4 linked regions of the Homo sapiens genome follow. The protein of the gene in region 4 interacts with the protein of the main gene of each other region in a pairwise test. Each region holds a gene or a part of one and is shown on either strand. Other genes may lie near its edges. The genes, in order: TXNDC12, HHATL, WFDC2 and FKBP7.

The links.
Region 1: the proteins of FKBP7 (region 4) and TXNDC12 interact in binary tests that used the Homo sapiens proteins (3 or more experiments, as listed by UniProt).
Region 2: the proteins of FKBP7 (region 4) and HHATL interact in binary tests that used the Homo sapiens proteins (3 or more experiments, as listed by UniProt).
Region 3: the proteins of FKBP7 (region 4) and WFDC2 interact in binary tests that used the Homo sapiens proteins (3 or more experiments, as listed by UniProt).

The regions. Positions count from the first base shown.
Region 1 is NC_000001.11:52,019,611-52,024,203, forward strand, and holds the end of TXNDC12 (thioredoxin domain-containing protein 12 precursor), read right to left. Parts: intron 3,965-4,593; coding exon 3,881-3,964; intron 1,403-3,880; coding exon 1,323-1,402; 3' UTR 521-1,322; downstream 1-520. UniProt on the Homo sapiens protein: Protein-disulfide reductase of the endoplasmic reticulum that promotes disulfide bond formation in client proteins through its thiol-disulfide oxidase activity.
Region 2 is NC_000003.12:42,692,786-42,699,817, forward strand, and holds part of HHATL (protein-cysteine N-palmitoyltransferase HHAT-like protein), read right to left. Parts: coding exon 6,973-7,032; intron 6,361-6,972; coding exon 6,247-6,360; intron 6,118-6,246; coding exon 5,923-6,117; intron 5,567-5,922; coding exon 5,357-5,566; intron 4,895-5,356; coding exon 4,723-4,894; intron 4,361-4,722; coding exon 4,216-4,360; intron 4,093-4,215; coding exon 4,057-4,092; intron 1,060-4,056; coding exon of another isoform or gene 1,034-1,059; coding exon 832-1,033; intron 434-831; coding exon 292-433; intron 91-291; coding exon 1-90.
Region 3 is NC_000020.11:45,472,721-45,479,752, reverse strand, and holds part of WFDC2 (WAP four-disulfide core domain protein 2 precursor), read right to left. Parts: intron 1-7,032.
Region 4 is NC_000002.12:178,475,586-178,483,054, forward strand, and holds the start of FKBP7 (peptidyl-prolyl cis-trans isomerase FKBP7 isoform a precursor), read right to left. Parts: upstream 3,016-7,469; 5' UTR 2,915-3,015; coding exon 2,694-2,914; intron 1,629-2,693; coding exon 1,477-1,628; intron 1-1,476. Other genes in the region: PLEKHA3 (pleckstrin homology domain-containing family A member 3), read left to right, coding at 5,285-5,324. UniProt on the Homo sapiens protein: PPIases accelerate the folding of proteins during protein synthesis.

The sequences.
Region 1 (4,593 bases), on a different chromosome or scaffold from region 4:
CCCGCCTCGGCCTCCCAAAGTGCCGGGATTACAGGCGTGAGTCACCGCGCCCGGCCTAATTTTGTATTTTTAGTAGAGCCGGGGTTTCGCCATGTTGGCCAGGCTGGTCTCGAACTCCCTACCTCAGGTGATTCGCCCACCTTGGCCTCCCAAAGTGCTGGGAGTACAGGCGTGAGCCACTGTGTCCAGCCAGGAAAGGTTTTAAACAGGGGAGTGATATGGATCGATTGCAGGAGGAGGGAATATTAGAGCCAATAGGCAAGTTAAGGGGCTATAGCAATAAATAGTCGAAGAGAGAAAAAGCCTGCCCCGTGCTAAAACAGTGATAGTGTGGACAGAGGAAATTCAGGTATTTAAAAAGTAAAAGAGAGGAGCCATTGTGCTCATTTGAATGTGGGAGGTGAAGGAGCAGGAGTCCTAGGTTAGGACTCCTAGATTAGGTCCTCTAGGTTAGTTTTCTTCCTGAAGTGATCTCCATCCCTCCCTCCTTTTCCAATAACAAAAAGGCCATCACAGCACATTTCCTTTTAAAGTTTTATTAAAGTTTAATGGTACAATATTTTATCTCTTTTTTTGTTAATGCCAGTACAAAAATACAGTTGATGACTTGACAAAATGGCTACACCTAGGGCTTGAAGGTTTGAGTTTCTCCAACAGTAACAAGGGAAAGCATGCTTCCACCTGGAGCCGAGTCCAAGCACACAGCCAGTCCTGCACACGCATGCGTGCAAACAGGGAAGCTCAAGCATGAGAAGAGGAAAGAGGCTGTAGAAATTTGGGAAGAAGCCCACAATTATTCCCAGGAGAAAAAAGGGAAAAAACAGGCTGATATCCTTGGTAGGGGGTAGAATAACTGATTTACACTTAGGATTTATTGTTATTGTTGTTGTTGTTGTTTTTTAATGATAAGCTACTTCTGCAATTTTAACGTTGTAGAAAAGATGCTACTAGTCTCCTTTCACCACTAAGGTGAGTAAAGTGGGAGGAAATGGGAAAAGACTCAAATACTTAAGTGCGAGGAGTAAACATCCAAGTGGCTCAAGTTTTGTGTCAGAAGGTTTCATTCTTTACATTCAATGACAAGTTGACATTTAGGTGAGAGGGAAAAGGAGAAGAAAGTCTGCCACTCTCCGCTGGATCCACAAACATGCAGACCAGCTTCTGTTAGCAGAACTCTTCCACAGTGAGAGCGCTCCTTCCAGTGTAGGTAGGAATGAGGTTTCCTGGTCGGCTTAATTGTTCTAGATGATTCCTCAATATTCCCTTCCCTGCTGCTTTCCTTCCAGAACACTAACTCTGATGAAAGAAGGGGCACATTCATGTTACAATTCATCTTCAAGATGTTTCTTTCTGAAGGCATCACCCGTCAGCCTTTCCTGAGCTTCCTTCATCCCCTGAACAACTGTGAAATAAAGATTGGAGGAAAAAAGTATGAAGTAAGTAATGTTTGACATTTGACAACCAATGTACACTTTTAAATGTTTCAGAAGAAATATGAGAGGAGTACAAGATCTGGACTCAAGATCTAGCTCTGGATTTTGGCCCTGGCAAGTCATTTATCTCTTTGAATTTGTTTCCTCATTTATAAAATGAAATAATGTAACTCACTTCACACAGTATTATAAAAGTTAAATGGGAGAATGGATAATAAAAGTGCTTTATCAACTACGAAGTCATACCAAAATCTTAGCAGTTATTTTGGCTTACCCTCTAGGATTAGAGCTGATCCCCTGTCCTAGACTGTAGATGTTCACTTCACCCCCAGGGAAGAGGAAACACCTTCCTACCGTCCCCATTGTATCTTTTGGATGAATGTTGCACTTATTTTACTTCCTGTGGAGGTTACAGATTACACTGAGGGGTGTGTGTGCTGGGGCGGGGGTGTCTCTACTGAAGGGGGTCGTCATTTCCAGTATCAACTATACATGGATGAAGCCAAGTTCTCAGGCCAAAAAAAAAAAAAAAAAAAAAGAGAGAGAGAAACCTGGAAGGAGGGCCTTAAGTAGACTCGAGATGAAACTTCTTGTCTGTCTTGGGGCATCCTGCTTATGGATTTAGACTCAAGGGGGACAGCTATTTCAGTATAGGCTCCTGAATGGTGGTTCTACAAAGCACCCCTATATAATGGCAGGCCAGAAGCTGGGTTGAGCCAGAGTCTATGAATCTTGCAAAGCCAAACCATAAGCTCATAAGAGGCAGATAATACAGTTTGTTATTTCTGTTTTGTTTTGCCTATGCCTTTAGTAAAGCTGGGTTTGAATGTTCCAGTTTCATGTCAGCTGAGAGATGGAGGATTCAGGGAAGGGTCTCATGTTCACATCTGGACTATGTCAGTGTGGAGACAGCAGTGGTAACTTGGATGAAATTCTAAAGGGAAGGTGAATCTCAAGATACAAGAATTGGAGACCTAAAGCCCAGCTGCCCTTCTCCACGTGGAAAATTTCCCTTTGATACCAATCTCCAGTGATCTGCATTTGGTTAAGGAACATGACATTCTCCTTACTCAGGGGAAGAAGGTAATAGCTTCTACAGATCTCCTCCCCGTCCCTAGTCTGAGAATAAGAGTATCAAGGACTCAAATCATAAAGTGATCAACAGCCTGGCAGCATGGCAAATAGGGACACATGGCAACTTAGCACACAACTCCCTTTCATAGATGAGGGGAAAAGGAAGGAAAGCAGCAACAATACATGGCATGAATTCCAACCCCTGCCTCCAGAATGACTGTGCTCAAAGATTAGAGAACAAAAAAGCATGACTGGCTGACGATTGCAAACTTCCTTCACTTGTTTGTGCTGGTGCTCTTCTCTCTCCTGGAACATGCTTTTCCCATTCTGCTACTGACAAGGTCTTATTCTCTAAGGCTTAATCCAGTCATTATTTCTTCTAGCAAGCCTTACAAACTCTATGTTGGGCTACATTCCCCCGCCACTTCACTTCCATAGCTTGAAATGTCCTCCTCATATCTGTCCAGAGATGAAATTTTTATCCTTCTAGGTCCGTTTACGTTTCGGGGTTTTTTTGGTTTTTTTTTTTTTTTTTTTTTGAGACAGAGTCTCGCTCTGTCACCCAGGCTAGAGTGCAATGGCGCACGATCTTGGCTCACTGCAACCTCTGCCTCTCGGGTTCACGCCATTCTCCTGCCTCAGCCTCCCGAGTAGCTGGGACTACAGGCACCTGCCACCACGCCAGCTAATTTTTTGTATTTTTAGTAGAGACGGGGTTTCACCATGTTAGCCAGGATGGTCTCAATCTCCTGACCTCATGATCCTCCCGCCTCGGCCTCCCAAAGTGCTGGGATTACAGGCGTGAGCCACCACGCCCAGCCCGCTCAGCTATTTTTTGTATTTTTAGTAGAGATGGGGCTTTGCCATGTTGGCCAGGCTGGTCTTGAACTCCTGACCTCAAGTGATCTGCCTGCCTCGGCCTCCCAAAGTGCTGAGATTACAGGTATGAGCCACTGTGCTCGGCCTATTTAAGTTTAATATCTATAAAACCTCTTAGACTTGTTCACCTAACACTATTCCTCTTCCACTGAATTTTCATAGGAAAAACAGTATTAGCTCAGTAGGAAAAAAACTAAGTTCTGGACTCAAATTCTGGCTCTGCTACTTAACTATGAAACTATGGGCAAGTGACTACCTCAGTCACTTGTGTGCCTCAGTTCTTCACAGCTGCCTGTGGGTCAGTCAGCTCTTCCAAGGGAAGGGGCTCAGTCTCATCTTCCTCCTATATCCTACACAGGATCTGGCCAAAAGCTATAGACATGCAGGAGATGCTCAGCTAACATGCTGAATTTACTTTCCTATCACAGACCTTGCATGTGGTTCATCCTAGTTCAATCTAGCAATAATCCTCCCTCCCTTCAGCATAACTATACCTTGCTCGGCACTGACATAAAAATACTTGTAGCTGGGGTTTCCATTCTCATTGATGATTTCAGGATGCACCTTGCCACTGGGATCTGTTATAGACAAAATGACACAGAGTTTTGCAGTAATTACAACAGACAGGTACTTCAAACACTACCTGGTACATCGGGCCCTCTGGGAAATAAGATCTGCCCATATTTGCAGCCCATTACCTCACCATAATACCTCCTACATTTCTGCTTCCTTTTCTGCTTGATGATTTTGACTTCTATCCCCCATAAAACCTAGCAGAATTTATGCTGAACAAAGATTAGGTGGTCATTAAATATCTCTTATAAAATTATTTGTGGAAAGACATTTATCTGGTTATATTATTCCATTGCCTTAGGTGCACTATAGGTTCAAGGGTGAGAATTCTGGCTTATATCTGTCTCTGTAGTGTCTAATACAGTGCTTGACATATGGCTGATGCGCAAATGGCTATTGAAGTGAATAAATGATCAAACTCTTTTTTTTTTTTTTGAGACAGGGTCATTCAGTTTCCTTCTGTCATTCAGGCTCAAGGGCAGTGGCGTGATTATGGCTCACTGCAGCCTTGACCTCCCAGGCTCAATTGATCCTCCCGCCTCAGCCTCCTAAATAGCTGAGACTACAGGTGCGTGCCACCACACCCGGCTAATTTTTGTACTTTTTGTAGAGACGGGCTTTCACCGTGTTGCCC
Region 2 (7,032 bases), on a different chromosome or scaffold from region 4:
CCTCCAGTGCCAAGGTTCGCTCACGCTCCTTTACCAGCTGGACGCCACAGTAGGTGACAAACAGGATGGACAGCGTGGTCTGGGGGAACCCTGTGTGGGGAGGGAGTCATAGATGCTCAGGAGCAGCACTGCATCCTCAGCGACTTTTGTCTTCCCACCCCTCTCCCCGCTTGATGGGCCCTCCCTTCTGAGTCCCAGGGGTGATGAGGGAGATAGGAGGCATTTTGGAAGGTCACGGTCCTTGAGGCTGATGCCTGGCACCTTCTGTATCCCCACACCCCTGTCCCTCACCTGTGAGTAGCAGGCGCCGGGCAACCAGCTCTGTGAATTTGAGGCTGTTCAGGCTCACAAGGTTGTACATGATGATGGCCCAGAAGTTCATGGCTCCAAACAGGGCCCGGACCCTACGGGACATCTGCACTGACAGAGAGGCCTATCCGGTCCAGGAAAGCATGGGCAGCGGGACAAGAGGCCAAAGGAAAGAGGACATGGTGGGTCAGCAGCCTTACCCACCTGGCCAGTCAGGTCTTGGGGCTATGTCTGGGTCTCGGAGAGCCCCAGGTCAGCTCTCCCTCCTTGTTAAACATGGGGAAACAGGTCCAGAGAGAGGACAAGGCCTGACCAACATGGCAAGGCCCAGGTGCTCCATTCCTCATAGAAGGGAGGGAGGGGCAGATTCCTACAGAGTGAGCCATTGCTCTGACAACTAAGAGGGTGGTGGTGAGAAAGTTCTGGATTAGGGGCCAGGTGTTTGGACAACTCCAGAAAGCAGCAGTGCCCCCCCGCCCTCTATGACCCAGCCAGTCCCAGCCCCAGGTCTTCCCTGCTCACCTCAATTCGTGCTAGGGGCCCCCACTCTGCCAGTTTTTGCATCCAGAGCTCAAAGTTGAGGCCAAAGCAGTTAAGGAATGACCACAGGTAGACAATGTCACAAGGCCCAAGCCACAGTGTGGTGATGGCAAATGTGGCCACTGTGGCTGCCAGCTCTGGGATCACAGCGGAATGCTCCCCACCAATGTGGTTATACACATATCTGCAGGAAAGATGGGAGAAGGGCCACTGGGAGTGTGGGAAAGGGCAGGGATGAGATGGGAGAGGACACACAACAGGGCGTCCTCCTCAACACTGTCACCCTGGGTGCATTCAACATTCCTGACCTCACGTAGCAGCTCCTCCTCCAACCAACTTCAAATTGTGGCAGGCTCAGCCTGGGACATTATAGCTTCTCTATCTCTGTTCGTTTACTTCCCAAATGATCTCATCCAGACCCAAGATTTCAAGTACTAGCTCTATGACGATGACCCCTAAATCTGTGTCTTTAGCCCAGTCTCTCCTGATTTGTATATGCAATTGCTACTAGCCATGTCACTTGATTGACAGATTCCCCTATCCCTGCTCAAACCCAGCTCCGTCCTCATCTCAGTGAATGGCACCACCATCCATTCAGTTGCTCAGGGTATAAGCCTTGGTGCCATCTTGGATTCTCAGTTTGCCTCATCACCCACATCCAAGCAAGCCAGCAAATTCTGTTGGCTCCTCTCAGTCCTGACCACCACTCACCTCCTCTACCACCACCACCCTAGTCAAGATGATCACTCTTCTCACATAAATTATTGCAAGAGCCTCTTAAGTGGTCTTCTTGTTTCTGCTTTTGCCCCCATGGTTCATTCTCCACACAGCAGCCAGAGGCATCTTTTAAGAGTGTAGCTCAGGTCACATCACTTCCATGATTAACCTCTCTGAATAGCTCCCCATTACAATAGGAATAAACTCAGTCTCTTTACTCTGGCTAGAAGATCCCAAGTGGTCTGGTTTCTGTTCCCTTCCTGACCAAATCAGCCACCATGCTCCCCCAGTTCATCATGCTGGCCTCACTGGCCTTTCTTACCTTTACACCCACACAGTTGGTTTGTGTCTCAAGGCCTTTGCCCTTGTTGTTCCCTCTACCTGGTATTCTCTGCTCCACATCTCCTTATCACTCAAATCTCAATTCAAATATCATCTCCTCAGAGAAGCCTGCCTAGACCCCGACTAAAGAAGCTTCTACCCTGTTGTCAACTTCTATCCCATTGCAATTTTATTTTCTTCATAACACTTACCACTCTCTAAAATTATCTTATTTATGTTTGTTTACCTGTTTATGGTCTGTTTCTCCCCACTAGACTGTAAGCTCCATGAGTTCAGGGTCTTTGCCATGTTCACTGCTGTATCCCCAGTGCCTAGAACAATGCCTGGCACATAGGTGCTCAATAAATATTTGTTAAATAAGTTCTGTGGAAGACCCAGGAATAACCAGCCTCTCCATTCCTCGACCTCCTCATTTCCAATGGCTTTTTCTCCACTCCACCTCAGCCACCCACACCCATGGCCATGCCCCAACTTTGTCACCACTTGAAAGTTCACTCCTTTCTAATTCCCATTCTTTGCCCAACTCCTCTTGACCTCCTGGCCCCCCAGCTTCAGTTCTTCAATCCCATTGATCTTGTGACCCTCCCACCTTCACCACCGTCCTTAGCAGGCTTATATCCAATGAGTCATGACTATAAATAATCTAAAAACCCTTATTCCTGACTTCTTCCTTGTCATCCATCTGGGAGAGCCCAATCACTTACTTTCTCCTCAGCTACACCCAGGCAGCTAAGCCCCATGGGGGAAATCTCACATCTTCACATGCTGGAGTTCATAAGCCCACCACCTCCAATACCACCTGGGTACTCAGTGCCAAGATTTCTCTAGTCAGCTGCTTCTCCCTTGCTCTGCAAGGGCCACTGTATTCTTATCTCCCCACAAGTATGAGTGGAGAGATAGTATGAGTGGGGGGATCCAGGCTGGGTTGTGGGGGTAAGCATATATGTTGCCTCTCTCCACGTCCCTGTCCTGGCTTTCTCAGCTGATGGCCGTGCCTCCTGCTTCATGGACAAGGCTGAAGCCTTCAGGTGGAATCCCTTACTTGTCTACATTAACCTGCTTTCCTCTGCATCCACACTGGCTTCTCTTCCTCCTCCTCCCACTGAAGCCAGGCCTCCGCCTGGAACTAGACACCCTCACCTCCTTCCTCTTCAGGGACCTCACTCCATCAATCACCCCTGTATCCTGCATCCCCAGCTTCTCTGTTGAATAATTCTTCTTAGCATGTCCCATTCTCTCCTATCTTTAACACATCCCTCTTCTCCCTCAGCCACTCCTGTCTTCCCCCTGCAGTCCCAGGCTTCTTCCAGGAGTCATCACACACTTCTCTACTCCTCAGTTGACTTTCCCTCCTTACCTGCTCCTGCCTTGCCCATGAAAGGCTGAAAACCTCCATGTCACCAGCACTAATCCTCGGTCTCCAGCTTCCTTGAGGCTCAGTGGCATCTGACCAAGCTGTCCCCACCATGCCTGGATGGTCTTCCCTTGGCTTCCAGGGTGGCACATGACCTTGATTCTTCTCCTGCCCCTCCAACTACTCTTTCCAGTCCTTTCTGCTGGCTCCTTTTCCTTCCAAGCAGAGCTCTTGCAGGCTGAATCTCGGCCATCCCCGTCTCTCCTCTTCTCACACCACTCCCTCTCCTGAGGACTTACCCACTCCCAAAGCCTAAAAACCACCTGCCCACACTCAGGACGCTCTGAGTTCCATCAGTCCTCTGGACCCTCAGAAACCCAGACCCTCAGACCCAACCACCTCCCTGAACCTCCACAGGGATGTCTCCTAGATTGCGACTATACATTTCTTAAACTGAAGCCCTCTCTGGAAACTGCCCTCCATCCTCCCAGGCTGCAGACAGCAATTTGAGCGTCATCTCCTTCTCCTTCCCAACACCCACAGTTCATGGCCACGTCCTGTTCAGGCTGCTGACTGTGTGACCCTCCTCCCACCACCTCTCTCCACCTCGAGGGCCCTCACTTAAATCCTAACTTCTATATCTTTCACCCAGACCTCTGCCAATACCTCCTCACTGCCCTCTTTGCTTCCCCTGGCCCAGGGGTGATCTTTTAAAATGTGGACCCATCTTGGCACTGCCCTGCTCAGACACCTGGCAGGATGGCTGTGACCACCCCCACCCCACTCCTACTCACTTGCAAAGCCAGTCGTTGATGCCACGGTCAAAGTGCCTGTAAGAGGAAAGCAGATGGGCATGTTGCCATCAGGCGCAGAGCTCCCCAGGCATGGGGGAAGAGGCTAGGGGAAGGTGTGGTCCCAGGGGGTGAGCCTCCCCCGTCCTGGCCAGCACTCACGTTTCCGCAAAGACGTAGAGTGCGGTGATGCACTTGGGAGGCTGGGGTGGGTCCAGGTGGTCGAGGCATGCCACAGTGTTGACAACACCAAAGAGGACGGCCGCCTTCACCCAGTCATACACCAGGTTTGAATAGGCTAGGCCAGCTGGGGGCAGGGCACTGTCACTGCCTGGGGTCCAATCGCCTGGGGCCTGCCCCCATGAAGACCCTGTCCCACCACTTCCTTGGGGAGACACCAGGCTCTGCCCGCCCCACGGAGACCCCCCCATATTGTGGAAATCAGTCATGCCTGGTGAAGTGGGTGGGGTCCGTGGGATGCTGCTCTGGCCCCACAGGATGAAGCTAATGCCAAGACCCATGCATTAGAAAGAATAAGCCCCTGCTCCCACGCCCTCAGGTGCTGTGCCCTGCGTGCCTCAGCTCCCCTGACTGTGGCACCGTGGGGGTGCAGAGGGTCTGTTTTCCTGGGGCGGCAGCCCTGCCCCCATTTCTCTTCTGTGGACCCACCGAGGGCACTGTCTGGGAGGCGGTTGGCGAACTTGAGGTCGCTGGGGATAGTGAGGATGTAGAAGAAGTGAAAGAAGATGTCGACGGCCATGATGGCCACCACGCTTAGGCCTGCCTGGGCTCGGATGTGCCACAGCTCACCCTCGCGTCTCACTGGCTCCACCTGGCTCACCTGGGGGGATGCGAAGGGTCTGAGGGAAGAGGCAAGCCCTGCCTGGGGAGCCCTGTCTGAGGGGGGCTCACCAACTACTTGGGGCAGGAGGAGCCATGGCTTTATCCAGGAGTCCTGCCTGAGGGTGGAGACAGAGGTCACCCTGGAGTCTGAGGAGGATTCACAGCCAGCCATGGGAGACCCAGTTCTGTCCTGGGAGCCCCATTTGAGTGGGAAGGGAACATTCGTGGCCTGGGAGTCCTGTCTGAGAAAAGAGACATGTCTCCACCCTGGGGTCCCTGCTGGAGGGGAAAGGTGGCCCCATCCTGGGGTCTGAGGAGGGAGGGGAGACACGGCTTCATCCTGGAATCATGCCTGAGGATGGGGATACAGCCTGCTTGGGGAATTCTATCTGAGATGGAAACCCCAATCTGAAAAGGGAGATTCAGCCCTGTTCTAGAAGCCCACAGGGTGTCCCCTCACCTGAGCATGGAAGCGATCAAAGGTCATGATGGGCCCGAAGAAGAAGAAGGGCAGGTAGAAGTTGTACTTGAGCAGGTCAGCTAAGGAGTAGTGGCGGTCAGGGTGGGCACAGCTCTCCAGTGCAAAGCTGGTGCAACGCAGCACTGTGAAGCTGCTGCCCCCATGAAACAGCACCTCTTGAAGATCAAAAGTGCCTGTTACAAACCCGCTCTGGAGGGGGAAAGAACAGGCCACCAGCTCACTAGGGTGCCTCCTGTCTCTGGAAAACCTATTCCCCACTCCCTAGCTTCCCACAGGGGCCCAGCCTGGTCCTGTCCCTTCCTCTCTTCCAGAGCCAGTTAACTTTGGCCACTGCTCTATCCCAGCAATGCGAGGAGCAGGGGATGATCTGGATAGTTCCTCCTGTGATGCAGGTGCTCACCTTGTGGCCAGGACATACCCAAAGGCTTGAAGACAGGTGGAAAGTGAAGGGAATACTTGGGGATACTTGGGGTGCAAGGACTTTGGATGAAGTGAGAGGTTTGGGATCTTATCCCTACACCCTCTACCCCTGCACCAGTTCACACCTGCCAAGAGATTAGGGGGTCCATCTTGAAGGAGGCCAGGCTGGCCAAGCCAAGGCCAAGACAGAGCCAGGGCTGGCCCAAAAGCGAGGCCACATAGAGGCCCACACAGTGACCAAGCAGCAGCAGCAGGTACCAAGGGCCCATTGTGCCCATCACAGCCAAGGCCCCGTACACAGCATACATCCAGGAGCGGAGCTGTGGGCAGGGAGAAGGCTTCAGTTTCGCCATATAAATGGGGGCGTGACCCCAGGAGGGGGTTCCCACAACCCTTGTGGTGAAAGAGGAGCTGGCAGGGAGAGGCTGGGTGGCCCAGGTCCAGCTCACCTTTGGGGCAACCATCGTGCAGAGTTTAGCAAACAGCACATGTCCGGAGAGGGCAAAGATGATGACGTTGCGAAAGGAGGTGAACCACATCACCCACTCGAAGTCAGCCACATCCTGGGGCAGTCCGGGGCAGAAGGAGGTGGGGCAGGTGAGGGTGGGAGAGGGGACAGGACGAGCTGGAACCTGGGCTGGTCAGAGCCCCAGCACCTTTCCCAGCCTTCATGTTCTTCTTTTATTATTATCATTTTTAAATTTAATAATAATAATTATTTTTTACCACTAGCCAAACCCAACGTGTCCTCTTTATGCAAACACAAGAGCAGTGCCTGCAGGTCTCCACACTCCTCTGTGAAGGAAGTACCGAGGCAGGAGGGTAGAGAGGAGTGAAGGGCACCATGGGGGCTGCCGGGTCGCTTGAAGCTCCCCCTCTCCTCCGCACGTTGCCTGCCATTCCCCCTTTACTGCTTTGTTTCTGGGAAGGAGGTGCTGGAGGCTCCACTGAAGCACACTCCACTAATGCGACCTATTTCCCAAGTGAGCAGGGCCCGGGCAAACTTGATGTCCCAGGAGGATACAGGAGGGGCCAGTAAAGAAGCTGAAGGCACTGAAGCTCAAGCCAGAGGCCCCAGAGCTGTGAGAAGCTCTCTGTTACTTGCCAACATCTGGAACAGCAGAGAGCAGAGAAGGGTTCGGGATGGGAGGGACCCTGGGATGTGGGGGACCTACCATCTTCCGGCCAATGTACTCCCAGCCAGGTCGCACAGACTCCCGGAAGGCCTTCCTGTG
Region 3 (7,032 bases), on a different chromosome or scaffold from region 4:
TGCTCCCAAATGGAATCACAGGACCTCAGCTTGAGTCCCAAGTGGGCCTTCGTGGCCTAGGGCCAGAAATCTCCCAGAGCCTCCGTGTCTTTAGGTGCCAGTGGAACAGTGCTAATTACAACATAGGGTTGTTGTGAAAGCAGTGGGAAACAAACATATATTATTTCTCCCTGAAATATCAAACTACTCTGTAGTTATGAGAAATTATAACAGTGAACACTTAATTAGCTCTTATTACATGCCAGGTATCAAGCCCCTAACATATATTAACTCTTCTAATTCTCACAATAATCCTAAAAGAAGGGGAGGGATCTGTTAATATTTCCTTGTGTTACAAGTGAGGAAACTGAGGCACTGAGAAGTTAAGTAATTTGCCTAAGGTCACACAGAATTGAGGCAGAATTTGAACCCCAAGAAATCTAGCTGCAGAGTCTATGTGTTAACTGCTGCTGCCATGGTTAAGCACTATGCTGCCACTTAAAGTGTAAAGTACAGTACACATGTGAGGGGTTACACACTTATAATCTTCACTCATACCCACAGACCGAATCCCAGTTGCAGTCTCTCAGCACCATGACCCTCCAAATACACTCATTCATCCATGCAGAGAGAAACCACACGTCCTTCCACTAACAAACACACACACAATCACACTCCACTTCCCAGGTTAGATAGAGGGGAGCCAGGCCCAGCCAAATCCATTCATCAACTGAGGTACATCATGGTTGCTTCCAACTTTTGGCAATTATAAATAAAGCTGCTATAAATATGTGCAGGTTTTTGTGTGTAAAACACAGGCACAGAACTGGGTGATTAGCTGTAGAGGACAAGGAAAGTGGCTGACAGATCACCGGGTGCAGTGGCTCATGCCTGTAATCCCACACTTTGGGAGGCTCAGGCGGGTGGGATCATCGGAGGTCAGGACTCGAGACCCCCCGCTCTACTAAAAATACAAAAAAGTTAACTGGGCGTGGTGGCATGCACCGGTAATCCCAGCTACTTGGGAGGCTGAGGCAGGAGAATCGCTTGCACCTGGGAGACAGAGGTTGTAGTGAGCTGAGATCATGCCACTGCACTCCAGCCTGGGCGACAGAGCGAGACTCCATCTCAAAAAAAAAAAAGATTTAGGTTCAGCTTTCAAGATGGCCGAATAGTAACAGCTCCAGTCTGCAGCTCCCAGTGAATCAATGCAGAAGGCAGGTGATTTCTGCATTTTCAAATGAGGTACGTGGCTCATCTCATTGGGACTGGTTAGACAGTGGGTGCAGCCCACGGAGGGCGAGCAGAAGTAGGGTAGGGCATCATCTCACCTGGGAAGCACAAGAGGTCAGGGAACTCCCTCCCCTAGCCAAGGGAAGCCATGAGGGACTGTGCCGTGAGGAATAGTGCACTCTGGAGCAGATACTACACTTTTCCCACGGTCTTCACAACCCACAGACCAAGAGATTCCTTTGGGTGCCTACACCACCAGGGCCCTGGGTTTCAAGCACAAAACTAGGTGGCCATTTGGGCAGACACTGAGCTAGCTGCAGGATTTTTTTTTCATACCCCAGTGGTGCCTGGAATGCCAGTGAGACAGAACCATTCACGCCCCTGGAAAGGGGGCTGAAGCTAGGGAGACAAGTGGTCTAGCTCAGCGGATCCCACCCCCATGGAGCCCAGCAAGCTAACATCCACTGGCTTGAAATTCTCACTGCCAGCACAGCAGTCTGAAGTTGACCTGGAACTCTCAAGCTTGGTAGGGGGAGGGGCGTCCACCATTACTGAGGCTTGAGTAGGCAGTTTTCCCCTCACAGAGTAAACAAAGCCACCAGGAAGTTCAAACTGGGCAGAGCCCAACACAGCTCGGCAAAGCCGCTGTAGCCAGACTGCCTCTCTAGATTCCTCCTCTCTGGGCAGGGCATCTCTGAAAAAAAGGCAGCAGCCCTAGTCAGGGGCTTATAGGTAAAACTCCCATCTCCCTGGGACAGAGCACCTGGGGGAAGGGGCAGCTGTGGATGTGGCTTCAGCCTGCCTGCCGGTTCTGAAGAGAGCAGCAGATCTCCCAGCACAGCATTTGAGCTCTGCTAAGGGTCAGACTGCCTCCTCAAGTGAGTCCCTGATTTCCGTGTCTCCTGACTGGGAGACACCTTCCAGCAGGGGCTGACAGACACCTCATACAGGAGAGCTCTGGCTGGCATCTGGCGGGTGCCCCTCTGGGACAAAGCTTCTAGAGGAAGGAACAGGCAGCAATCTTTGCTGTTCTGCAGCCTCTGCTGGTGATAGCCAGGCAAACAGGGTCTGGAGTGGACCTCCAGCAAACGCCAACAGACCTGCAGCTGAGGGGCCTGATTGTTAGAAGGAAAACTAACAGAAAGGAATAGCATCAACATCAACAAAAAGGACGTCCACTCAGAAGGCCCATCCAAAGATCATCAACATCAAAGACCAAAGGTAGATAAATCCACGAAGATGGGGAGAAACCAGCACAAAAAGGCTGAAAATTCCAAAAACCAGAACACCTCTTCTCCAAAGGATCACAATTCCTCGCCAGCAAGGGAACAAAACTGGACGGAGAATGAGTTTGACAAATTGACAGAAGTAGGCTTCAGAAGGTGGGTAATAACAAACTCCTCCAAGCTAAAGGAGCATGTTCTAACCCCAATGCAAGAAAGGTAAGAACCTTGAAAAAAGGTTATAGGAATTGCTAACTAGATTAACCAGTTTAGAGAAGAACATAAATGACCTGATGGAGCTGAAAAACACAGCACGAGAACGTCATGAAGCCTATACAAGTATCAATAGCCGAATTGATCAAGCAGAAGAAGGATATCAGAGATTGAAGATCAATTTAATGAAATAAAGAATGAAGATGAGATTAGAGAAAAAATAATGAAAAGGAATGAATGAACAAAGCCTCCAAAAAATATGGGACTATGTGAAAAGACCAAACCTATGTTTGATTGATGTACCTGAAAGTGATGGGGAGAATGGAACCAAGTTGGAAAACACTGTTCAGGATATTATACAGGAGAACTTCCCCAACCTAGCAAGAAAGGCCAACATTCAAATTCAGGAAATACAGAGAACACCTCAAAGATACTCCTTGAGAAGAATAACCCCAAGACACATAATCATCAGATTCACCAAGGTTGAAATGAAGAAAAAAATGTTAAGGGCACCCAGAGAGAAAGGTTGGGTTACCCACTATGGGAGGCCCTTCAGACTAACTGCAGATCTCTCTGCAGAAACCCTGCAAACCAGAAGACAGTGGGGGCCAATATTCAATATTCTTAAAGAATTTTCAACCCAGAATTTCATATCCAGCCAAAGTAAGCTTCATACATGAAGGAGAAATAAAATCCTTTATAGACAAACAAATGCTGAGGGATTTTTCTCATCAACAGGCCTGCCTTACAAGGTCTCCTGAAAGGAGCACTAAACATAGAAAGGAACAACTGGAATCAGCAACTGCAAAAACATACCAAATTGTAAAGACCATCGACACTATGAAGAAACTGCATCAACTAATAGACAAAATAACCAGCTAGCATCATAATGACAGGATCAAACTCACACATAACAATATTAACCTTAAATGTAAACAGGCTAAATGCCCCAGTTAAAAGACAAAGACTGGCAAATTGGATAAAGAGTCAAGACCCATTGGTGTGCTGTATTCAGGAGACCCATCTCAAGTGCAAAGACACATAGGCTCAAAATAAAGGGATAGAGGAATATTTACCAAGCAAATGGAAAGCAAAAAAAAATCAGGGGTTGCAATTCTATTCTCTGATAAAACAGACTTTAAACCAACAAAGATCAAAAGAGACAAAGAAGGGCATTACACAATGGTAAAGGGATCAATGCAACAAGAAGAGCTAATTATGCTAAATATATATGCACCTAATACAGGAGCACCCTGATTCATAAAGCAAGTTCTTAGAGACCTACAAAGAGACTTAGACTCCGACATAATAATAGTGGGAAACTTTAACCCCCACTGTCAATATTAGACAGATCAATGAGACGGAAAATTAACAAAGATATCCAAGACTTGAACTCAGCTCTGGACCAAGCAGACCTAATAGACATCTACAGAACTCTCCACCCCAAATCAACAGAATATACATTCTCCTCAGCACCACATCACACTTATTCTAAAACTGACCACATAATTGGAAGTAAAACACTAATTAGCAAATGCAAAAGAACGGAAATCCTAACAGTCTCTCAGACCACAGTGCCATCAAATTAGAATTCAGGATTAAGAAACTCACTCAAGACCGCATAACCTTACATGGAAACTGAACAACCTGCTCCTGAATGACTACTAGGTAAATAACAAAATCAAGGCAGAAATAAATAAGTTCTTTGAAACCAATGAGAACAAAGACATAACATACCAGAATCTCTGAGACACAGCTAAAGCAGTGCTTAGAAGGAAATTTATAGCACTAAATGCCCACAAGGGAAAGCAGGAAAGATCCAAAATTGACACCCTAACATCACAATTAAAAGAACTAGAAAAGCAAGAACAAACAAATTCAAAAGCTAGCAGAAGACAAGAAATAACTAAGATCAGAGAGAACTAAAGGAGATAGAGACATGAAAAACCCTTCAAAAAAAATCAATGAATTCACAAGCTGGGTTTTTGAAAAACATCAACAAAATAGTCTGACTGCTAGCCATACTAATAAAGAAAAGAGAGAAGAATCAAATAGACACAATAAAAAATGACAAAGGGGATATCACCACTGATCCCACAGAAATACAATCTACCATCAGAGAATACTATAAACACCTCTACGCAAATAAACTAGAAAACCTAGAAGAAATGGATAAATTCCTGGACACATACACCCTCCCAAGTCTAAACCAGGAAGAAGTCGAATCCCTGAATCGACCAATAACAAGTTCCAAAATTGAGGCAGTAATTAATAGCCTACCAACCAAAAAAAGTCTGGGACCAGACAGATTCACAGCCGAATTCCACCAGAGGTACAAAGAGGAGTTGCTGGTACCATTCCTTCTGAAACTATTCCAAACAATAGAAAAAGAGAGCCTCCTCCCTAATTCATTTTATGAGGCCAGCATCATCCTGATACTAAAACCTGGCAGAGACACAATAACAAAAAAATTTCAGGTTAATATCCCTGATGAACATCAGTGCGAAAATCCTTAATAAAATGCTGGCAAACCAAATCCAGCAGCACATCAAAAAGCTTATCCACCATGATCAAGTTGGCTTTGTCCCTGGGATGCAAGGCTGGTTCAACATACACAAATCAATAAACGTAATCCATCACATAAGCAAAATCAATGACAAAAACCACATGATTATCTCAATAGATGCAGAAAAGGCCTTTGATAAAATTCAACACCCTTCATGCTAAAACACTCAATAAACTAGGTATTGATGGAAGGTATCTCAAAGTAACAAGAGCTATTTATGACAAACCCACAGCCAATATCATACTGAATGGGCAAAAGCTGGAAGCATTCCCTTTGAAAACCGGCACAAGACAAGCATGCTCTCTCTCACCACCCCTATTCAACATAGCATTAGAAATTCTGGCCAGGGCAATCAGTCAAGAGAAAGAAATAAAGGGTATTCAATTAGGAAAAGAGGAAGTCAAATTGTCCCTGTTTGCAGATGAAATGATTGTATATTTAGAAAACCCCATTATCTCAGCCCAAAATCTCCTTAAGCTGATAAGAAACTGCAGTAAAGTCTCAGGATACAAATCAATGTACAAAAATCACAAGTATTCCTATACACCAATAATAGACAGAGAGCCAAATCATGAGTGAATTCCCATTCACAATTGCTACAAAGAGAATAAAATACCTAGGAATACAACTTACAAGGGAGGTGAAGGACCTCTTCAAGGAGAACTACAAACCACTGCTCAACGAAATAAGAGAGGATACAAACAAATGGAAAAACAATCCATGCTCATGGATAAGAAGAATCAATATCGTGAAAATGGCTATACTGCCCAAAGTAATTTATAGATTCAATGCTATCCCCATCAAGCTATCACTGACTTTCTTCACAGAATTAGAAAAAACGACTTTAAATTTCATATGGAACCAAATAAAAGCCCACATAGCCAAGACAATCCTAAGCAAAAAGAACAAAGCTGGAAGCATCACGCTAACTGACTTCAAGCTATACTACAAGGCTACAGTAACCAAAACAGCATGGTACTGGTACCAAAACAGATATATAGACCAACAGAACAGAACAGAGGCCTCAGAAATAACACTACACATCTACAGCCACCTGATCTTTGACAAACATGGCAAAAACAAGCAATGGGGAAAGGATTCCCTATTTAATAAATGGTGTTGGGAAAACTGGCTAGCCATATGCAGAAAACTGAAACTGGACCCCTTTCCTTACACCTTATGCAAAAATTAACTCAAGATGGATTAAAGACTTAAATGTAAGACCTAAAACCATAAAAACCCTAGAAGAAAACCTAGGCAATACCATTCAGGACATAGGCATGGGCAAAGACTTCATGACTAAAACACCAAAAGCAATGGCAACAAAAGCCAAAATTGACAAATGGGATCCAATTAAACTACAGAGCTTCTGCACAGCAAAAGAAACTATCATCAGAGTGAACAGGCAGCCTACAGAATGGGAGAAAATTTTTGCACTCTATCCATCTGACAAAGGGCTAATATACAGAATCTACAAGAACTCAAACAAATTTACGAGAAAAAAACCCCATTAGAACGTGGGCGAAGGATATGAACAGATGCTTCTCAAAAGAAGACATTTATGCAGCCAACAAACATGAAAAATGCTCATCATCACTGGTCATTAGAGAAATGCAAATCAAAACCACAATGAGATAACATCTCACACCAGTTAGAATGGAGATCCTTAAAAAGTCAGGAAACAACAGATGCTGGAGAGGATGTGGAGAAATAGGAATGCTTTTACACTGTTCGTGGGAGTGTAAATTAGTTCAACCATTGTGGAAGAGAGTGTGGCCATTCCTCAAGGATCTAGAACAAGAAATACCATTTGACCCA
Region 4 (7,469 bases):
GCAATAATGCTGGTTTTTCCATGCTTTTGCCAAGTTGTTTTGTGTTTGCTAATCTGATGAGTGAAATATGATGTCTCATTTTTAATTTCTCTTTATGAATAAAATTAAGTATTCTCATAGACTTAAAGGCCATTTGTAGTTTTTTGTTAGTGGGTGCTTATTTATGAATTTGGCCCATTTCTAGGGATATGTCATTTTCATTATTGGTTAGCAAGTCTTCATACATGTTACAAACATTTTTCCCGCTTATTTGCTTTACCTAGGTTTTCAGATCTTTTTGCTGTAGGATTTTTAAAATGACAAGATATTGAAAGAATAAGATCATTTCTTGCACATTTGAAGGCTTGTCCTGTATTGGGGTAATAATGACTGACAGCCCATTATATCTCAGCTGTTCCTTTTACAATGTGCCCGTCCTGTCCTTTTACTCTAAACCTACATGTTCCAGTTTCTGAGTTTTATGAATTTAACTTTGGTACTGCTTACCAAAGATCTGTGTTATAAATATTTATGTAATAATAACATATGCTGAAAACAAATAAAAATGCTTAAGGTAGAGCTTATAGAATATATATAATCATCATGAGTGTTGCCACAATGTAGAAGAAAGAACTCTGGCCAGAGATCTATATTCAAACAATGTCATATTATCCTTATAAGCAAAAAGAAGGGACTGGACTGAACTAGATAGAGCTTAAGGTCATTGGGCTTTACTGTTCTCTTTATTTCATCTATCATTTTTTATTTCACTTTTTTGTTTTTAATTGTGGTAAAATACACATAACATAAAATTTACCATCATAACAATTTTCAAGTGTGTTGTTCAGTAAAGTACGCTTACACTACCATGCAACCAATCTCCAGAACTCTTCATCTGGCAAAAATGAAACTCTATACCCATTGGTCAACAATTCCCCTTTTCCCTCTCACTTCAGCCTCTGGCAATCACCCTTCTACTTTGTCTCTATTAATTTGACTACTCCAGGTACCTCACATAAATGGAATTATACAGTATTTGTCTTTTTGTGACTGGTTTATTTCATTTAGCATAATGTCCTCAAGGCTGATACATGTTGGTGCATGTCTCAGAATTTTCTTCCTTTTTAAGGCTGAATAATATTCCATTTCATTTTTTTTTTTTTTTTTTTTGTAGAGCAGGGTCTTGCTGTTGCTCAGGCTGGTCCTGGCCTCAAGTGATTCTACCACCTTGGCCTCCCAAAGTGTTGGGATTACAGGCATGAGCCACTGTGCCTGGCTTCCATATATGCATGTATTCATTTTGTTTATCCATTTCTCTATGTATGGACATGTGGCTTGCTTCCATCTCTTGTCTATTGTACATGGCTGCTATGAGCATGGCTGTACAAATATTTCTTTGAGACTGTGCTTTCAATTCTTTCAGACCTATATACCCAGAAATCTATTAATCATTTTTTAAATATAACTAAAACAAGAAATTAAAATTAAACATCTTACCATAGCCTTCCTTTCCGTATGCAAATGAAGGGGGTATAACTACTTTTCGCTTTTCTCCAGGGCACATATCTGTCATAGCAATGTCTAGGCCTTTTATGACTTGCCCAACACCAAGAACAAACCATTTGGGGTGGCCTTCATTTTGTGTCCGGCTATAACAAAAAGCAATACTTAAGTAAACTGATTTCAAGAAATCAAACTTGAAAATACAGCTGGGCATTTAAAATTGGAGTCCTCTCTAACCATCATTCCCATATAATCACTCTTTCTAAAACCCTTAATGGGGTGTTTGACTCAAACTTCCCTATAATCACCAGAAAGAAGTATGATTTGCCCAAAGTTAATCATTAACAGCCATCTCATTTTTTAAAATTGTTATCTTTACAAAAACTATTCAACAGTTAACTTTTTAATGGGTCTCCAGCCCCTAACTAGGTGCATGGCTTGTACAAAGAACTCATTTAACTCCCTGGGTTTGTTGTAAAAAAATGATAGGGCAGTTTTAGCCTCAAAAAGTCATTTTAATAGTAATTTAAAATGGTATATTTTCTTATTAAATTCTAATGATATAATTTATTAAATTCTTATTAAATTATAAAATTGTATAAATTCTTATTAAATTTCTCTATTTTATTCTAAATGGATGGAACTGTTTTTCCCAGTCCTATCTTTACAGGGTAAAGAAAAGATTCTCCCTCTGAGTAATAAGCCATCAATTAAATCAGAGTAGGCACCAGGTGGAATGAGGGAGCAGGGCCCACCAGAAGTCACCAGGGAAGTAACTGTTTTTCTTGATAGAAAGTGGCCACAACCTATAAAAATCGTGCTTCTGAAGGCCAGAATTAAATCTCTTTATTCCATGTATTCCTCCGTAAAGACTCAATACTTCTGGCAAGGGAAAAATGTGAACATCCTTATAGGCAGAACCTTGATTTAATTCTGGAGGTCCCAAGGGTAATGGTGGTGGTTGATGTGTGTGTGGATGTATCGTATTTTTGATAATTTATTGCCACAACATTTTCAATACTTTAAATAAAAATATTCAGTTTATTAGAGAAACACTGCCATATAATGTGATTTTTTTTAATGAATAAAGGGCTCAACTTTTACCGTTAAAAAATAAAACCCCAACCAACCAACCAATGAGGCTTCCGCTTGGTGGAGGCAGGCAAGATTTTGTGCAACTGGACGCACGGGCAGCTCGCAGCATTTCCTACCTGCAGTAGAATTTCGAGCCGTCTTTAGCCAGGTAGCCGTCATAATGGGCATTTAGTAGGTCTCCCTTCTTGCTTGTCTTAGAGCAGTTTTCTGGACGATGCAAAACTTCTATTTTCACTTCTTCGGTGCTCTCCTCTTTCTTTTGTCTCTGAGCAGTAAAAAGGCCCCACAGATAAAAGAAAACAATGAATCTGAATAAGAAATGCATGGTTTTTGGCATCGGCTCCAGCAGAACACTGCTCTCCCTCCCGCGTGTCACTCGCGCCCCGTGGATGTCCCGCGGCCGAGTTCCGACGCGTGGCAGGCGTTGTCCTGCGTCACAAAGGGCCGGGGCGGGGCCATAGATGCGGCCCCGCCCTCTCATGGCCCCAACCCCTCCGCCTCCCGCAGCGGGCTCAGCGCGGTTAACGCTGTTTCTAGGCCCTCGGGCTGGCTGTCCTCAGTCTTTAAGATCGCAACGCACACTCGCTCCGCTTCTTCTCGCTAAACCCGCGTATTTTACAGCAGGTTTCCTCAGGGTTCGGTGACAACATTCGCATTTTCTAAAATGAAACTGGCATAAGACGAAATAAACAGCCTGGGATGTCGTAGAGTCAGGGAATATGGTTGTCATTTCTGGAAGCAAAAGGCTTCTAAGACCCCTAGGGAACGAGCAGATAGATACTGGGGGGAGGGAGAGGCATGCTGGAAAAGGAGCGTAAAAAATAGGCTGGCGGTGGCTTTCTGGGTGCTTCGGAGGTGTCCTTGAAGCGCATTCTCAGGTCGGAATCTTGCATTCAGAGGTTCCAGGCTGAGTCGCACAACCTGAAGGCCAGCCCGATGCAACGAAACTGCGGTACCGCAACTCCTCTGCCTGGCTGCAGGCGTTTCCGAGAGCCGACCTCCACAATTCAGCATCCTCCGCTGGCTTGCATTTCTTTTCCCCGCCACTCGGGGCCGCCCTTGATTCGAGGGCCTCTGGTAGTGCGGGGAATGTTCTTTTGACTTTTTTGTACCATCCCATGGGATACGTAATTGTCCACATCAGTCAAGAAAACTTGAGTATTGGGCATGTTGTCCCAATCTCACAGCTAATACGCAGCAGGGATTTGGTCAAATCTGTGTGACAACACCACTTCACCACCAATTTTAGTATGAAAACCTTTAAAATACACAGAAAGTTGAATTCTACAGTAAACTCTCCTACACCCACCATCTGGATCCTGTCATTGAACTATATTATATTTATTACATATCCATCCATCACTCTATCCATCCATCAATTCGCCTTGTTTCCAAGTGAATACCCAAAGACTACCCAAACCAGAAAACCAGCAAAGGCCTTCTGCATTCGCCTGGATTAAGTTCTGGGAGTAGAGGTGCTATTCTACCTCGGTGATGCGAAGAAAAGCCGCAGCACTGAGCCTGATTGATGTGCTTTGCTTAAAGTTTGCAAAATTCCATAAACCTGAAAATTACTGTCGATTATGCAAGATGACAATTGCGTCCAAGCAGGAGTTTCAAAAATCATAAAAGCTAGGGGGAAGTCCCCATTTCTAGACTAAAATTCCGAAGTCGAGTTCCATGTTTTATATTCTAAATAAAATTGTGGCTATCCAAGGTTATCGGCGTGATGACAGTTCCTTGGGGGCCCTCGCCATTCCTTGTCAGAGGACCCCGTCTGCTGCACATTGCCTTCCTAGGAGATAATTTCAGACCCCTTGAATATGAGGAAAATACGAAGCAAACAGAAATAGGAAGGCTTTTATGTATTTTTGAAGAAAAAACAGGATTTTATGTAAAATAAAAACAGGATTTCATGAAGAAACAGGATATTATGTATTTCTGAAGAAAACCCAGGAAAACCCGAGAGAACTAAGTGCCCGCGGGATGAGTGTGCGGGCAGCTCCTCCTTAGGTAGGCACCGGGGCTGCGCGCGCAGCGGAGCTCGAAGGTCTTGTCCCCCGGGGGCGGTCAGCCTGGGCCTTGGCGGCCAAGGGGAAACTTGGGAGCCTCGGGACTGTTGGCCACCGGCCCGTGGGAGGAGTAAAGGCGGCCCTGGCTGGCAGGCCGAGGGTGTGACGCGCCGGCCCGCCCTCCTCGCGCAGCCTCCGGCTAGGCGGCGAGGCCGCAGGCCGCGCCCGCTCCTTCAGCCCCGCCGCCGGGGAGGGGTTTCCCGGGACGATCCGGCCCCTTTCATCCAGGAAGTGAAATCGACGTCGGGGTCAATGAAAACAAACGGGGAGCCCAGGGGGAAGGAAGGCAGGCGAGGAAGAGGCAGCGCCGGGGCGCCGGAGGGAGCAGCCGGGCTGCGGAAGCGCGAGCAGGAGGCCGGTCGCGGGCGCATTTTTGCCGTTGTCGCGGCCGCCGCCGCCGAGGCTTACCCGGGAATGTCTGGGCCCGCGCCTCGCGGCCCCCAAGCTCCACGCTGCGCCCGCTGTCCCGGCCTCTAAAGGCCGCCACGTCCCTGCGGCGCGCGCAGGCAGAAAGCGGCTTCGTGCCGGCGGAGGGGGCCCGGGCGGGCCGGGAGGGGCTGCCCCAGGCCCTGCGCCTACCCCATCACCGCGGCCGGCGCCGGGCCGGGAGGATGCGCGGTGTGGGGCTCTGAAGCATGGAGGGGGTGTTGTACAAGTGGACCAACTATCTCACAGGTATGGGGGCTCGTGTGATGAGGGAAGAGGGGAGAGGCGGGGGGCTGCTGAGAAGGCGGGTCGGGGCTCCTCTTCCTCCGTCTGGCCTCCGCGGACCCTCAGAGCGAATTCGCTCTACTCGATTCCAGGGCTTGTTGAGTCCTTCTGGCCTCTTCAGGGGAGGGTTTGAGGCTGCGCACCTTCTAGAGGGTGGGAAGTGCACCTGCCACTTCTTTGCTAGTGTAATAATACTAATCCTTGCCTCCTGTAGCCTCAGGAACAATTCTCAGTCACCCTACATGTGTTGTTGCGATCTCCGTCCTTATTCACACTTAGTATTCATACTTTAAGAGCATTTTGTTAATAACTGAGTTGTCGGAGTATTGGACTGGAATGGACCCTTTAATTGTTTCAACTACAAGATTTAATTTTAATTCTTTTTTGTATTTCTTTTAATTTCCTTAACATTTTATTTAAAACGTTGTCTTGTTGAGGTTGTTCAAGCTTAGCGAGCATGATTTTGGAAGCTGTCCCCAGATAATATTCTCTTAGGGATTGTCATTGAAGTATCCTTACGTTGGGGAATTCTGTTAACTGAGAAATAGTGGAAGAAAGTGTCAATACACAGAAGGGGAACAGGCAAGTCACTTTCACCTGTGAAGTGGGTTGGAAGGAAAAACTTTGAAGAAATGAGAGACCAGCAGGAAAGGGCCCCTTACCATGACATTGGCAGCCTGTAGGCTTATTTAAAAGCTCCTTAAATTTGAGTTGTAGTCCAATCTCTGCCATCAACCAACAATGAAGGCAAGTCAGTTATTCTTTCAGGACCTCAGTCTGATAAGGCCAGGGTGATTAGTTATTTTGCCCCGGGATGCCTTCCAACTCCAGAATTCCATGACCTCACTAAGTGAGAAGATGGTTTTAACATAAATTTGAACAGTAAACAGATTTTTTGGGGGGGGGGGGTCTAGCATAATAGGCAAATCATGACTTGCTGCCCACTTCTTCGCTCTGCCAAAAGTATCACATCCCTCAGTAATTGTGTGGTACTCTCGACTTGTGTCCACCTGATCTTGTGCAAAATGTGCAGGTAAACTTTTTAAGGCATAAGCACTGAGCTACAGTTATACCTGCTTTTTGATTTATTAGAATGCTAAAGCCAGATTTGTAGCAGCAAATGCTTTTAACATTTATGATACACAGATGTTTTATTTTGTTCAAACTAAAAACTCAATTTATTTCTATAAGTGACATGTTTTAACGGGAAACATTTAAAAGTTAGATAAATATTTTTTATTGGGCATTTTCATTTTGGCCATTGTGAGAGCAGTTATACTGTTTGGTTGAGGTATAGTGTTAACTGTTAAAGACAGTAGAGTGCTTCATGCTTGTAATCCCAGCACTTTGGGAGGCGGAGGTGGGAGGATTGCTTGCTCAAGACCAACCTGGGCCACATAGGGAGACGTGGTCTCTACTAAAAAAACAAAAACAAAAACAAAAAACAGCTAGGTGTGGTAGTGCACACCTGTAGTCCCAGTTACTGAGGAGGCGGAGGCGAAAGGATTGCTTTAGCTAGAGAAATGGAGGCTGCAGTGAGCTAGGATCAGTGAGCTATGATTGTACCCACACACTTCAGCCTGGCTAACAGAGCGAGATCCTGTCTCAAAAAAAAAAAAAAAAAAAGACATTAGCTTGTATGCTTTGAGATGCAAATGCTCATCTCATTGCAAGTGTTCCTAAGCATGGTGTTGTGGAACCATTGGGCCATTACTGAGATGAGTCATAATTTAAGAGTTGAGATGAAACCTGGGCTTGGTGGCGATTTCCTTATCTCCTATGGTACTAAATAACCAGGGGTTGAGCTTTTAATCACATGTGATTTAGATTTTAGTCTTTGCAGGGCATTTAGTCAACTTCTAGTATGCATTGTAGAAGCTGGTTGAAAAGAAATCTTTTGTTTGGAAGAATTTATTTTTAAAAGTTAAATTTGGGTAGATGGTGTGCTGATTATTAATTTTAGTTCATCTTAGGTCATAAGAATGAGCAGCTGTTCATACTAAGTGATCTTTAAGTGTAATGATAGTGTTGTTCAGGCACGGTGGCTCATGCCTGTAATCTCAGCACATTGGGAGGCTGAGATAGGCAGATAGCTTGAGGTCAGGAGTT